Linked DNA regions of Homo sapiens. The protein of the gene in region 1 purifies or fractionates together with the protein of each later gene. This does not show direct contact. Each region holds a gene or a part of one and is shown in the gene's direction. Other genes may lie near its edges.

Region 1 (3,648 bases):
ACAAGGAGAGATCGGGACCCCAATAGTTGCTGGCAAGCTCTCCAGGCAAACCCAAGAGCTCCATGGAATGAAGGCAGTAGAGGACAAAGGGTTACCAGGCCCAGCATTGCACATGGGCCAAGAAGGGTGGGGGCAATGCCTAGCGGGTGGGAGGATGCTCTGAGATAGCTCTGTTCCCCCCAGGAAGCCCCAAGGTGGCCCCTGCCTGTGAAGAGGCTGAGCTTGCCCTCCACCAAGCCACAGCTTTCTGAGGAACAGGCTGCTGTGCTGAGGGCCGTCCTGAAAGGCCAGAGCATCTTCTTCACTGGGAGTGCAGGTAGTGGGGGCAGAGAGGAGGTAGGGGGACAGTGGTGGGGTGGGATAGAGGAACAGGGAGACCTGTCTAACTTTGCCCCTGTCCAGGAACAGGGAAGTCATATCTGCTAAAGCGAATCCTGGGCTCACTGCCCCCCACAGGCACTGTGGCCACTGCCAGCACTGGGGTGGCAGCCTGCCACATCGGGGGCACCACCCTCCATGCCTTTGCAGGTAAGTAGGAACCCCTAGGGCTTGAGCTAAGAGCAAGCCCAGCTTCTGGGAAGGGAGAGAGGGGAGGTCTGCATAAAGAGGGAGTTTTGGGGGCTGGGCGCCGTGGCTCACTCTTGTAATCCCAAAACTTTAGGAGGCCAAGGTGGGAGGATCGCTTGAGCCCAGGAGTTTGAGACCAGCCTGGCCAACACAGTAAACCCTGTCTCCACAAAATTTAAAAATTAGCGGCCGGGCGCAGTGGCTCACGCCTGTAATCCCAGCACTTTGGGAGGCCGAGGCAGGCGGATCACAAGGTCAGGAGATCAAGACTATCCTGGCTAACACGGTAAAACCCTGTCTCTACTAAAAATACAAAAAAATTAGCCAGGCATGGTGGCAAGCGCCTGTAGTCCCAGCTACTCTGGAGGCTGAGGCAGGAGAATGGCGTGAACCCAGGAGGCAGAGCTTGCAGTGAGCCGAGATCACGCCACTGCACTTGAGCCTGGGCGACACAGCGAGACTCCATCTCAAAACAAAACAAAACAAAATTAGCTGAGCATGGTGGTGTGTGCCTGTAGTCCCAGCTACTATGGAGGTTGAGGTGGGAGGATCGCTTGAGCCCATGAGGCCCAGGTTACAGTGAGCCAAGATCGTGCCACTGCACTTCAGCCTGGGTGACAGAAAGAGACCTTCTCTCAAAAAAAAAAAAAAAAAAAAAAAAGAGAGGCTTTGGGTATTAGCCCAGGCTGAATAGTGTCACTCACAGGCATCGGCTCAGGCCAGGCTCCTCTAGCCCAGTGTGTGGCCCTGGCCCAAAGGCCAGGCGTGCGGCAGGGCTGGCTGAACTGCCAGCGGTTGGTCATTGACGAGATCTCAATGGTGGAGGCAGACCTGTTTGACAAACTGGAGGCCGTGGCCAGGTCAGTATGTTCAGAGGGCAGCAGGTGAGAACTGGGACCTGGTGGTCTTCTGTGTGCCCCTAAAGCACCCCACGCTCCTCTCCAGAGCTGTCCGGCAGCAGAACAAGCCATTCGGAGGGATCCAGCTCATCATCTGTGGGGACTTTCTGCAGCTGCCACCTGTGACCAAGGGCTCCCAGCCCCCACGGTTCTGCTTCCAGGTATTACTCACCTCCTAGCTCTGCTCTCCTTGGGGGTCTGCTCTGCTCCTTGACCCACCCCCACCCTGCCCCCACCAGTCCAAGAGCTGGAAGAGGTGTGTGCCAGTGACCCTGGAGCTGACCAAGGTGTGGAGGCAGGCAGACCAGACCTTCATCTCTCTACTGCAGGCCGTGAGGCTAGGCAGGTGAGCTCTGCTGGTTGGGGAAGGGGCTATGGGATGAGGATCCAGGCATGGGCCACAGTGGAACACAGAGAGGGACTCACAGAAGGGGTAGAATTGTTACCCTCAGGAGCAAGCACTCCATGCAGGAAGAGGAGCCTTGGGCAGGGCACTGGACAACTCAGGATGGATTGTAGTCAAGACCATCATGGCACCATAGGAGATGGTTGCTCTGAGTGCTGGGACCTAGCCTCCCTCAGGGTTGGGTCTCCATCACCTAGCACAAGGCCTGGCATAAAGTAGGTGTCAGGGGCTGGGCACGGTGGCTCACGCCTGTAATCCCAGCACTTTGGGAGGCTGAGGCAGGCGGATCACAAGATCAGGAGTTTGAGACCAGCCTGGCCAACCTGGTGAAACCCAGTCTCTACTAAAAATACAAAAATTAGCTGGGCGTGGTGGCACGCACCTGTAGTCCCAGCTACTTGGGAGGCTGAGGCAGGAGAATCGCTTAAACCAGGGAGGCAGAGGTTGCAGTGAGCCAAGATCATGCCACTGCACTGCAGCCTGGTGACAGAGCGAGACTCCGTCTCAAAAAACAAAAACAAAACAGAAACATAAGCTAGATTTTTCACCCAAGGTAGGAGGCAAGTGGATAGAAGATTGTACCCTGGAGGCCAATCTGGGTCCTGCAAATCTCCAGCCTGTGCTCACTCATCATAGCCAACTTCCTCAGGAGTATTATGGAGTGCGAGGGTGGCCAGCTCTGACCTGGGGCAGCACAGGGAAGGGTGCCCACATGTGATCAAAGCTCAGTACCCTGCCCCTGCTTATTCCCCATGTTTGGGGTCCAAGTTTGGAAGGGACAGGTTGGCCAGCTTGAGGGGGCAGCAACTCTTCCCTGGTGCCCTCTTCCAGTCCCAAGGCCTGACCCATGGCCTGCTGCTTGAGCCATCCTGCCCATGTTCCCCACCTCCCCTGCTGCACAGGTGGGCTCTGCCCTGACAGTCCAGCCCCAACAGGTGTTCAGATGAGGTGACCCGCCAGCTCCAGGCCACAGCTTCCCACAAGGTGGGGCGAGATGGGATTGTGGCCACGAGGCTCTGCACCCACCAGGATGATGTGGCCCTCACCAACGAGAGGCGGCTTCAGGAGCTGCCAGGTGAGCAGGGAGCCTGGGCTGGGCAAGACCAGCTGGGAAGAGTTATAAGCAGATGTAGCCCCCAGGCAACCTGGGCCTCTGGGTCCTAGGCCCCCAACCTCTGAAGCCATAAAGGCCCTCATATTTGCAAATGCAACTGTGACTTTGAGAGGTGTGATGAACTAAATTCCACAGCCCCCCAGGCCTGCGCTGCCTCTACTCCCTACCCCCGTGCTCTGGTCTAATAGTTTTTTTTGGAGGCTGGGAGCGGTGGGTCATACCTGTAATTCCAGCACTTTGGGAAGCCGAGACAGGCAGATCACCTGAAGCCAGCAGTTCGAGACCAGCCTGCCCAACATGGCAAAACCCCATCTCTACTAAAAATAGAAAAAAATTAGCCAGATGTGGTAGTGGGCACCTGTAATCCCAGCTATTCGGGAGGCTGAGGAGAATTGCTTGAACCCAGGAGGCAGAGGTTGCAGTGAGCCGAGATCACGCCTTTGCACTCCAGTCTGGGCAACAGAGCGAAACTCCTTCTCAAAAAATAAAATTAAATTAAATTAAAATTTAAAAAAAGTCTTTTTTGGGATGCTGAGTCACAAGTCAGTGATTTGTGATCTGTTTGCTCAACTCTTTTTCTCCAGGTAAGGTACACAGATTTGAGGCTATGGACAGCAACCCTGAGCTGGCCAGTACCCTGGATGCCCAGTGTCCTGTTAGCC
Region 2 (3,648 bases), on another chromosome or scaffold:
GCCTCCCCCTCAGTTCCCCTCAGAAAACTGCTTTTCCTCAGAACTTGGCTCACAATCCCTTTCTCTGTGGAACCCACCCTTGGGTTGTATCCTTCCTCTTCCGTCTTTTTTTTTTTGAGATGGTCTTGGCCATTGCCCAGGCTGGAGTGCAGTGGTGCGATCACAGCTCACTGCAGCCTAGACTCCTGTGCTCAAGCGAGGTTCCCGCTTCAGCCTCCCAAGTAGCTGAGACTACAGGTGTGTGTCACCACGCTGGCTAATTTTTAAATGTTTTGTAGAGACGAGGTCTCACTATGTTGCCCAGGCTGGTCTCGAACTCCTGGGCTCAGCCTCCCACAGTGCTGGGATTACAGGTGTGGGCCACTGTGCCCGATCCTGTCCTCTTTCTGAGCCTCTGGTATACCTTTATTAGGTTGCTGATGTTAACCTGTGTGTCTGTCCCCGAGTGAGGTGGTGCGGTCACATTCTGTGCATCTGGTGCCCAGTGTCAGTCTGTCATGTGGAGGCCAGTGGCTGGGCTGACAGGAGGCCTGGGTCCCTTGGCTCTGTGATCATCCTGTCTGGACTGTGGCAGCCTCCTCATGGGTCACCATGTGCTGAATGCTGGAGGACATTGTGTGCCACCTCTTAGGAGCCGCCCTCACCAGCCTCCTCTCTCTTTTTCGGCCCGTGTCCCCTTCTTTTTTTGTTTGTGTTTGAGACGGAGTCTCACTCTGTCACCCATCTCACCAGTGAGCTGGTACAATCTCAGCTCACTGCAACCTCTGCCTCCCAGGCTCAAACCATTCTCCTGCCTCAGCCTCCAAGTAGCTGGGATTATAGGTGCCTGCCACCTCACCGGGCTAATTTTTGTATTTTTAGTAGAGACAGGACTTTGCCATGTTGGCCAGTCTGGTCTCGAACCTCCTGACCTCAAGTGATCTGCCCACCTCGGCCTCCCAAAGTGCTGGGATTACAGGCGTGAGCCACCACGCCCGGCCCCCTGGCCCCTGGCCCCTTCTGTGTGGGCCCCATCTGAGAGCCATTTCCCAAATCTGAGAGCCATTTCCCTAGTCGGCTGTGAAATCGGATGGTGTTTGTAGTCAATCAGTTGTTTTTTTACTGTTGTGGAGTTTACCAGGGACTCTCCAATCTCTCTCTCGTTTCCTCTCACACCTCCTCAAGGCAGCAGCACGGACTTCCCCTTGCAGGTGGGGCCGAGGCTAGGCTGCACGGCTGACGGGGGGTTTGGGGGCCCTGAGATGAAGCGAGAGCGCTGACCAAAGCATTGGCAAGTTCTCCTGTACTTTACTGTTGGGCTTTTGGTAGCATTCTCTGCAAAATCATTTCTAAATGTGGACTTAATTTGGAGAAATTTGAGACTAAGTGCTTTATTTTTTAACTTGGTCACAAAATTTGGTCTTTTTCTTGTTATAAATTGGTGGCATTAAATGCTTTGTACTTAGTTCTAATGGAGAATCGGTGCAATCTCTCCTTTTGACTCATCTGTGGCCCTACATGATGGTCACCCATGTCATTATCCCCAGGGTGGACAATGTCCCAGAAGGAAGCCTGCCAGTGCACGGTGAACAGGCGCTGCCCAAGGACCAGCAAATCACTGCCTTGGGGAGAGAGGAACCTGTGGCAATAGAGAGCCCCGGACAGGATCTTCTGGGAGAAAGCAGGTCTGAACCAGTGGATGTGAAGCCATTTGCTTCCTGCGAAGATTCTGAAGCTCCAGTCCCAGCTGAGGATGGGGGCAGTGATGCTGGCATGTGTGGCCTGTGTCAGAAGGCCCAGCTAGAGCGGATGGGAGTCAGTGGTCCCAGCGGTTCAGACCTTTGGGCTGGGGCTGCCGTGGCCAAGCCCCAGGCCAAGGGTCAGCTGGCGGGGGGCAGCCTCCTGATGCACTGCCCTTGCTATGGGAGTGAATGGGGCTTGTGGTGGCGAAGCCAGGACTTGGCCCCCAGCCCCTCTGGGATGGCAGGCCTCTCGTTTGGGACACCTACTCTAGATGAGCCGTGGCTGGGAGTGGAAAACGACCGAGAAGAGCTGCAGACCTGCTTGATTAAGGAGCAGCTGTCCCAGTTGAGCCTTGCAGGAGCCCTGGATGTCCCCCACGCCGAACTCGTTCCGACAGAGTGCCAGGCTGTCACCGCTCCTGTGTCGTCCTGCGATCTGGGAGGCAGAGACCTGTGCGGTGGCTGCACGGGCAGCTCCTCAGCCTGCTATGCCTTGGCCACGGACCTCCCTGGGGGCCTGGAAGCAGTGGAGGCCCAGGAGGTTGATGTGAATTCGTTTTCCTGGAACCTCAAGGAACTCTTTTTCAGTGACCAGACAGACCAAACGTCATCAAATTGTTCCTGTGCTACGTCTGAACTCAGAGAGACACCCTCTTCCTTGGCAGTGGGCTCCGATCCAGATGTAGGCAGTCTCCAGGAACAGGGGTCGTGTGTCCTGGATGACAGGGAGCTGTTACTACTGACCGGCACCTGTGTTGACCTTGGCCAAGGCCGACGGTTCCGGGAGAGCTGTGTGGGACATGATCCAACAGAACCGCTTGAGGTTTGTTTGGTGTCCTCTGAGCATTATGCAGCAAGCGACAGAGAAAGCCCAGGACACGTTCCTTCCACGTTGGATGCTGGCCCTGAGGACACGTGCCCATCAGCAGAGGAGCCAAGGCTGAACGTCCAGGTCACCTCCACGCCCGTGATCGTGATGCGCGGGGCTGCTGGCCTGCAGCGGGAGATCCAGGAGGGTGCCTACTCCGGGAGCTGCTACCATCGAGATGGCTTACGGCTGAGTATGTCCCGGGCCCCATAGGAAGAAGTGTGGTGCTCCCAGAGCACAGTGCAGTGGGGGTGCAGGGCCTTCCTTGTTCTGGGGTCTGATGGGGTTTCACCCTGGAATAGTGTTAGCAGAAATCATGTTTTCAAGGAGAATGCATATCATCCACCCCTAGAAAATTAAGATTACGAATGTGTGTGCCTGGGGAGGGTGGCGCCCAAGGTCCCAGGCCACCTGCCCCATGCCCGTCAGTTCCAGCTGTGCCCCCTGACTCAGGCCATACACTTAGAGAGCCGCTCCTCCCAGCAGCCTGGGGAGATCCCGTCGGGAGCAGGAGAAGCGTGGGGGTGTCACGCTAGAGTCTGTCTCTCCACCTCCCACCAGCCCCCACCTCAGTGGTCACACAGACAGGCCGAGAGGGATGTGAGCGTGGTGAGATGCTCACGTGTTCTTCTTCCGTGCTTTTGGTGTTTAGGCTGCCCTGATCTCTGAAAAACCTGCCCTTCTGTGAGGGTCATGTGATCGGGCCCCTCTGCTTGCCCCTTTGAGATTGATTCTGTTTTACTTTCTTTTTTATTTTCATTTCTTTTTTTTTTTTTTTTCTTTTTTTTTGAGACAGAGTCTCTCTCTGTTGCCCAGGCTGGAGTGCAGTAGCGCGATCTCAGCTTACTGCAAGCTCCGCCTCCCGGGTTCATGCCATTCTCCTGCCTCAGCCTCCCTAGTAGCTGGGACTACAGGCACCCACCAGCACGCCCGGCTAATTTTTTCTATTTTTAGTAGAGACGGGATTTCACTGTGTTAGCCAGGATGGTCTCGTTCTCCTGACGTCGTGATCCGCCCGCCTCGGCTTCCCAAAATGCTGGGATTACAGGTGTGAGCCAC
Region 3 (3,648 bases), on another chromosome or scaffold:
GGCAATTGGAGCATGTACACTTAGGACTAGGACTTGTCCCATGGGTAGATGTGTGGCCAATGAAGAAGAGTGGGTAGAGATATTCCAGGCAGGTGAGCTTGTGGGGGAGAGGTGAGGTCATGTGGGAGAGAAGATCGAGTCTATGGAAGGAGATTTTAGAATCACTGAACTTCTTTTATTTTGGTGTCTCCTAGATAGTTTTGTGCCAGAATAATATCCATAATCAGGCCCATATGAACAGAGTGGTCACACACGAGCTTATTCATGCATTTGATCATTGTCGTGCCCATGTCGACTGGTTCACCAACATCAGACATTTGGCGTGCTCAGAGGTGAGTTTTATTGTATTTTTCTCCAGAATACTCTATGCTTGAATATTTTATTCAAGTGTAATTTATTTAAATGTATTCCTTTTCTTACTGTCATAGTTCTACCTTAGTCTTGAATTTCGGTTTATAACTAACATTGAATACCATTTTTGATATACAGTTAGAGAAATTTAAAGTGTATTTTTAGAATTCTCTTAACTATATCCTGTAAGTCCTAGTAATAGTGATGACTGACTTTAATAAGCTATTAATTTTTTCCTATGGAATATATTTTATAATGTATTCCATAGGAGACATTAATAATAAAAATAAAAATAAAAAAATAATTAAAATTTACTGAGGGCTGTGTTCCAAACACTGTTCTGTTTGCACAGATTCTTATTTAATCTTCACAATAACCTACTGAGATAGATATTATACTATTATTGTCCCTGTTTTACATATGTGGAAAGTGAGACAGTTGTTTAGATTCCAAAGTTAGTAAGTGGTAGAGGCAGGATTACAACTAGTGTTTTTAACTAGCTTGCCCAGCTGCCTTCCATAGAGCTCCTTGCTTGCCCTAGAGTAAAACATGCTCTTTTCAAAAATACAACATAAAAAGATATTTATTACTAAGCACGTTGGATTGCTCTTGGAATATGCTCCTAGAGAGAGCGTATTCTGCATATGCATATACTTGGATGTCATTAATTGAAGAGTTAATTAAAATAATCTAAATCTCAAGCCTATACTATATAACTTCGATTATTTCCCTTTCTCTTGAAATTAATATGTAGCCCCCTGCATCTAATTATAATTCCAATTATTTGGAGAATAGACTGAAACCTGAATTTTTAAATAGGTCTCTTTCTTGGGTACTGTGAGAATTAATGCCTTTTAGCTAGTTAAAGTGTGTTAAGTACTTTGAGCTCCTCAGAGGAATGAGGCCATAATATTGAAGAAGGAACAAGAAGTGGGCCATTCTGTTAGCAATGAATTAGCAAAAATGTGGTCAAGCTGCCTGTAGAATCTATGTGGGTAGTTCTAAGACTTTTTCATTCATTGAAGTATAGTAAATCTGAAAATATGTCCTAATTTCAGGCTGTCATGCTCATAGCGTGACCAGTTTGGAATGTTCTTGATTCTTTGTGTTTTGTATTGCTTCATTTTTCATAGGACAATCAAGTCCCTAGAGGAAGGTCATGAACTTATATAGGTTTGAGGGAAGCTCCAAGGGAGATTCGGGCAAGGGTTGGGAGGGGCATATTCTCAAAGTGTCTCAGATATTAATGCATTCAGTTTTAAGGTCACATTGAAACTCAGTTTATTTCAAGAATGCTTTCTTGAAGTACTTTTGGCAATTTCTACAAGTATTTGTATCTTGTAGAGTGTGTAGTTTAACTCTGAGGTCTAGCTCTCTGACTTTTGGTTCCAAAAGAAATTAGTTCTGTCAGTAAAGCTACGCATAAAGTTTAGAAAATTTCCTTTGGTAGGCGATTGAACTTTTCCCCATCTCTCCAGTGTATTTGGCATTGTCTAGCATAGCTCATAGATATTTGCTCTCGTTGTCAATAGAGTTTAAAAAGTCCTTTAAGAAGAAGTGTCACAAATACTCTTTTCTCAGACAAAGATGCTAATTTTATATTCTTTTCTAATTTTTAAAAATTGGTTGATATCATAAAGATATATAGAGCATGAGCGTTTATTTCTTTTTATTTGTCTTCTGTGTGATAGGTTCGAGCTGCTAACCTTAGTGGAGACTGCTCACTTGTCAATGAAATATTCAGGTTACATTTTGGATTAAAACAACACCACCAGGTAAAAACTAATATGAAATCACTTCCCCTCCAGAGTGTTACGAGTGGAAATAATGAATAAAGAAATGAAAAGTACATTCAGTATTTGAAATTTGAAAGAACTTCGTATGTGAAAAGAATACAAAGTATGTACCATTTAAACAAAGTAGATGGAATTTAGTTCTACTTTGTAATTATGGGCAAGCTATGTGACTCAATGAGTGTGTGAGATAGTCTAATAATGAAAAGAGGCCTGGTGCGGTGGCTTATGCCTCCCAGCAGTTTGGGAGGCCGAGGCGGGCGGATCACGAGGTCAGGAGATCGAGACCAGCGTGGCCAACATGGTGAAACCCCGTGTCTACTAAAAATACAAAAAAATTAGCTGGGCGTAGTGGAGCACACCTGTAGTCCCAACTACTATGGAGGCTGAGGCAGGAGAATCACTTGAATCTGGGAGATGGAGGTTGCAGTGAGCCGAGATCATGCCACTGCACTCCAGTCTGGGCCACAGAGTGAGACTCCATCTCAAAAAAAAAAAAAAAAAAAAAGGAGCTAAGATCTTGCATCTGGGATACTTTTCGATGGGGGTGGATAAGGAATGGAAGTGAAATCACAGCATGTCTTACTGTTATTCTAACAATTCTTGACTTCTATTTTGAATCTACCATAGCATTCTGGAGACAAAAGATGTAATCCCTTTCAGAACAGAGAGTGTGTTGCTGCACAAGTTATGGCTATGTGTCAGTGTACCTGTAAAGGCTATATAATGTGATAGAAAACCTTTGGCTTAGCACAGACTTGAGTATGATGAGCTTAGCTGAGAGGGATTTGTGTGAACAAAACAAAAACAAAAAACAAAAGAGAGCTATAAGGCAAGATTATCCTGGTAGAAAGGCTTTGAGATCTGTATTAGGTGGACGTGGGGAAAGAAAGTATAGGACTCATGGATTGATAATGAATGTGAGCAGTTCTGCCTGGGCCTGTGTCCACATTTAGGAGAAAGGCTGGTCAGTCATTTTCTACAGTAAGAGCCTGCTGAGTCAGTTTGTGAAGTATATGAGCATCACGATATCAGTTCCAACTAGATGAAAAAAGATAGGCTTAGGACAACAGGAAGGCCCTTGGTTTTCTGGAGAAGAGAGTAACTCAACTCTGGAGTGGGGGGTGGAAAGTCACAGTGAGCTACTCAGAAATTGTGAACTTAGTGAATGGGAGGGAGAAGAAAAGCCTTCTGCCTGGAAAGGGTGATTACTCTAGACAGTGAGGTGTTCAGCCTCTGCCAGGTCAGCTTAGTGATATGCCAGTGACTTGTCTTGTGCTGCATGTTTTCTGTGCCCTTGAGTCCCTGCTTCTCTGGTGAATTCTGTGTGTTCTGGCTGTCAGTGGAGAGGGTGGAAGCAGGGTACACATCAGCACGCCCCTAGAGAAGAGAATAATGTGGTTAAAGCATGTGCTGGCATAGCTTATGGATATCTGCTCTTGTCAATAGAGTTTGAAAAATTCCTTAAAAAAAAAAACTATTACATATACTCTGTTTTTAGAAA

Evidence for each region.
Region 2: the proteins of PIF1 (region 1) and PASK purify together in Homo sapiens (affinity purification with mass spectrometry; one large-scale study listed by BioGRID and IntAct). This does not show direct contact.
Region 3: the proteins of PIF1 (region 1) and ATP23 purify together in Homo sapiens (affinity purification with mass spectrometry; one large-scale study listed by BioGRID and IntAct). This does not show direct contact.

What each region holds. Positions count from the first base shown.
Region 1 is NC_000015.10:64,819,146-64,822,793, reverse strand, and holds part of PIF1 (ATP-dependent DNA helicase PIF1), read left to right. Parts: intron 1-183; coding exon 184-316; intron 317-402; coding exon 403-528; intron 529-1,273; coding exon 1,274-1,427; intron 1,428-1,512; coding exon 1,513-1,627; intron 1,628-1,705; coding exon 1,706-1,812; intron 1,813-2,774; coding exon of another isoform or gene 2,775-2,790; exon of another isoform or gene 2,791-2,807; coding exon 2,808-2,947; intron 2,948-3,570; coding exon 3,571-3,648. UniProt on the Homo sapiens protein: DNA-dependent ATPase and 5'-3' DNA helicase required for the maintenance of both mitochondrial and nuclear genome stability. Efficiently unwinds G-quadruplex (G4) DNA structures and forked RNA-DNA hybrids.
Region 2 is NC_000002.12:241,125,330-241,128,977, reverse strand, and holds part of PASK (PAS domain-containing serine/threonine-protein kinase), read left to right. Parts: intron 1-1,526; coding exon 1,527-2,782; intron 2,783-3,648. UniProt on the Homo sapiens protein: Serine/threonine-protein kinase involved in energy homeostasis and protein translation. Phosphorylates EEF1A1, GYS1, PDX1 and RPS6.
Region 3 is NC_000012.12:57,951,564-57,955,211, forward strand, and holds part of ATP23 (mitochondrial inner membrane protease ATP23 homolog), read left to right. Parts: intron 1-194; coding exon 195-332; intron 333-2,042; coding exon 2,043-2,126; intron 2,127-3,648.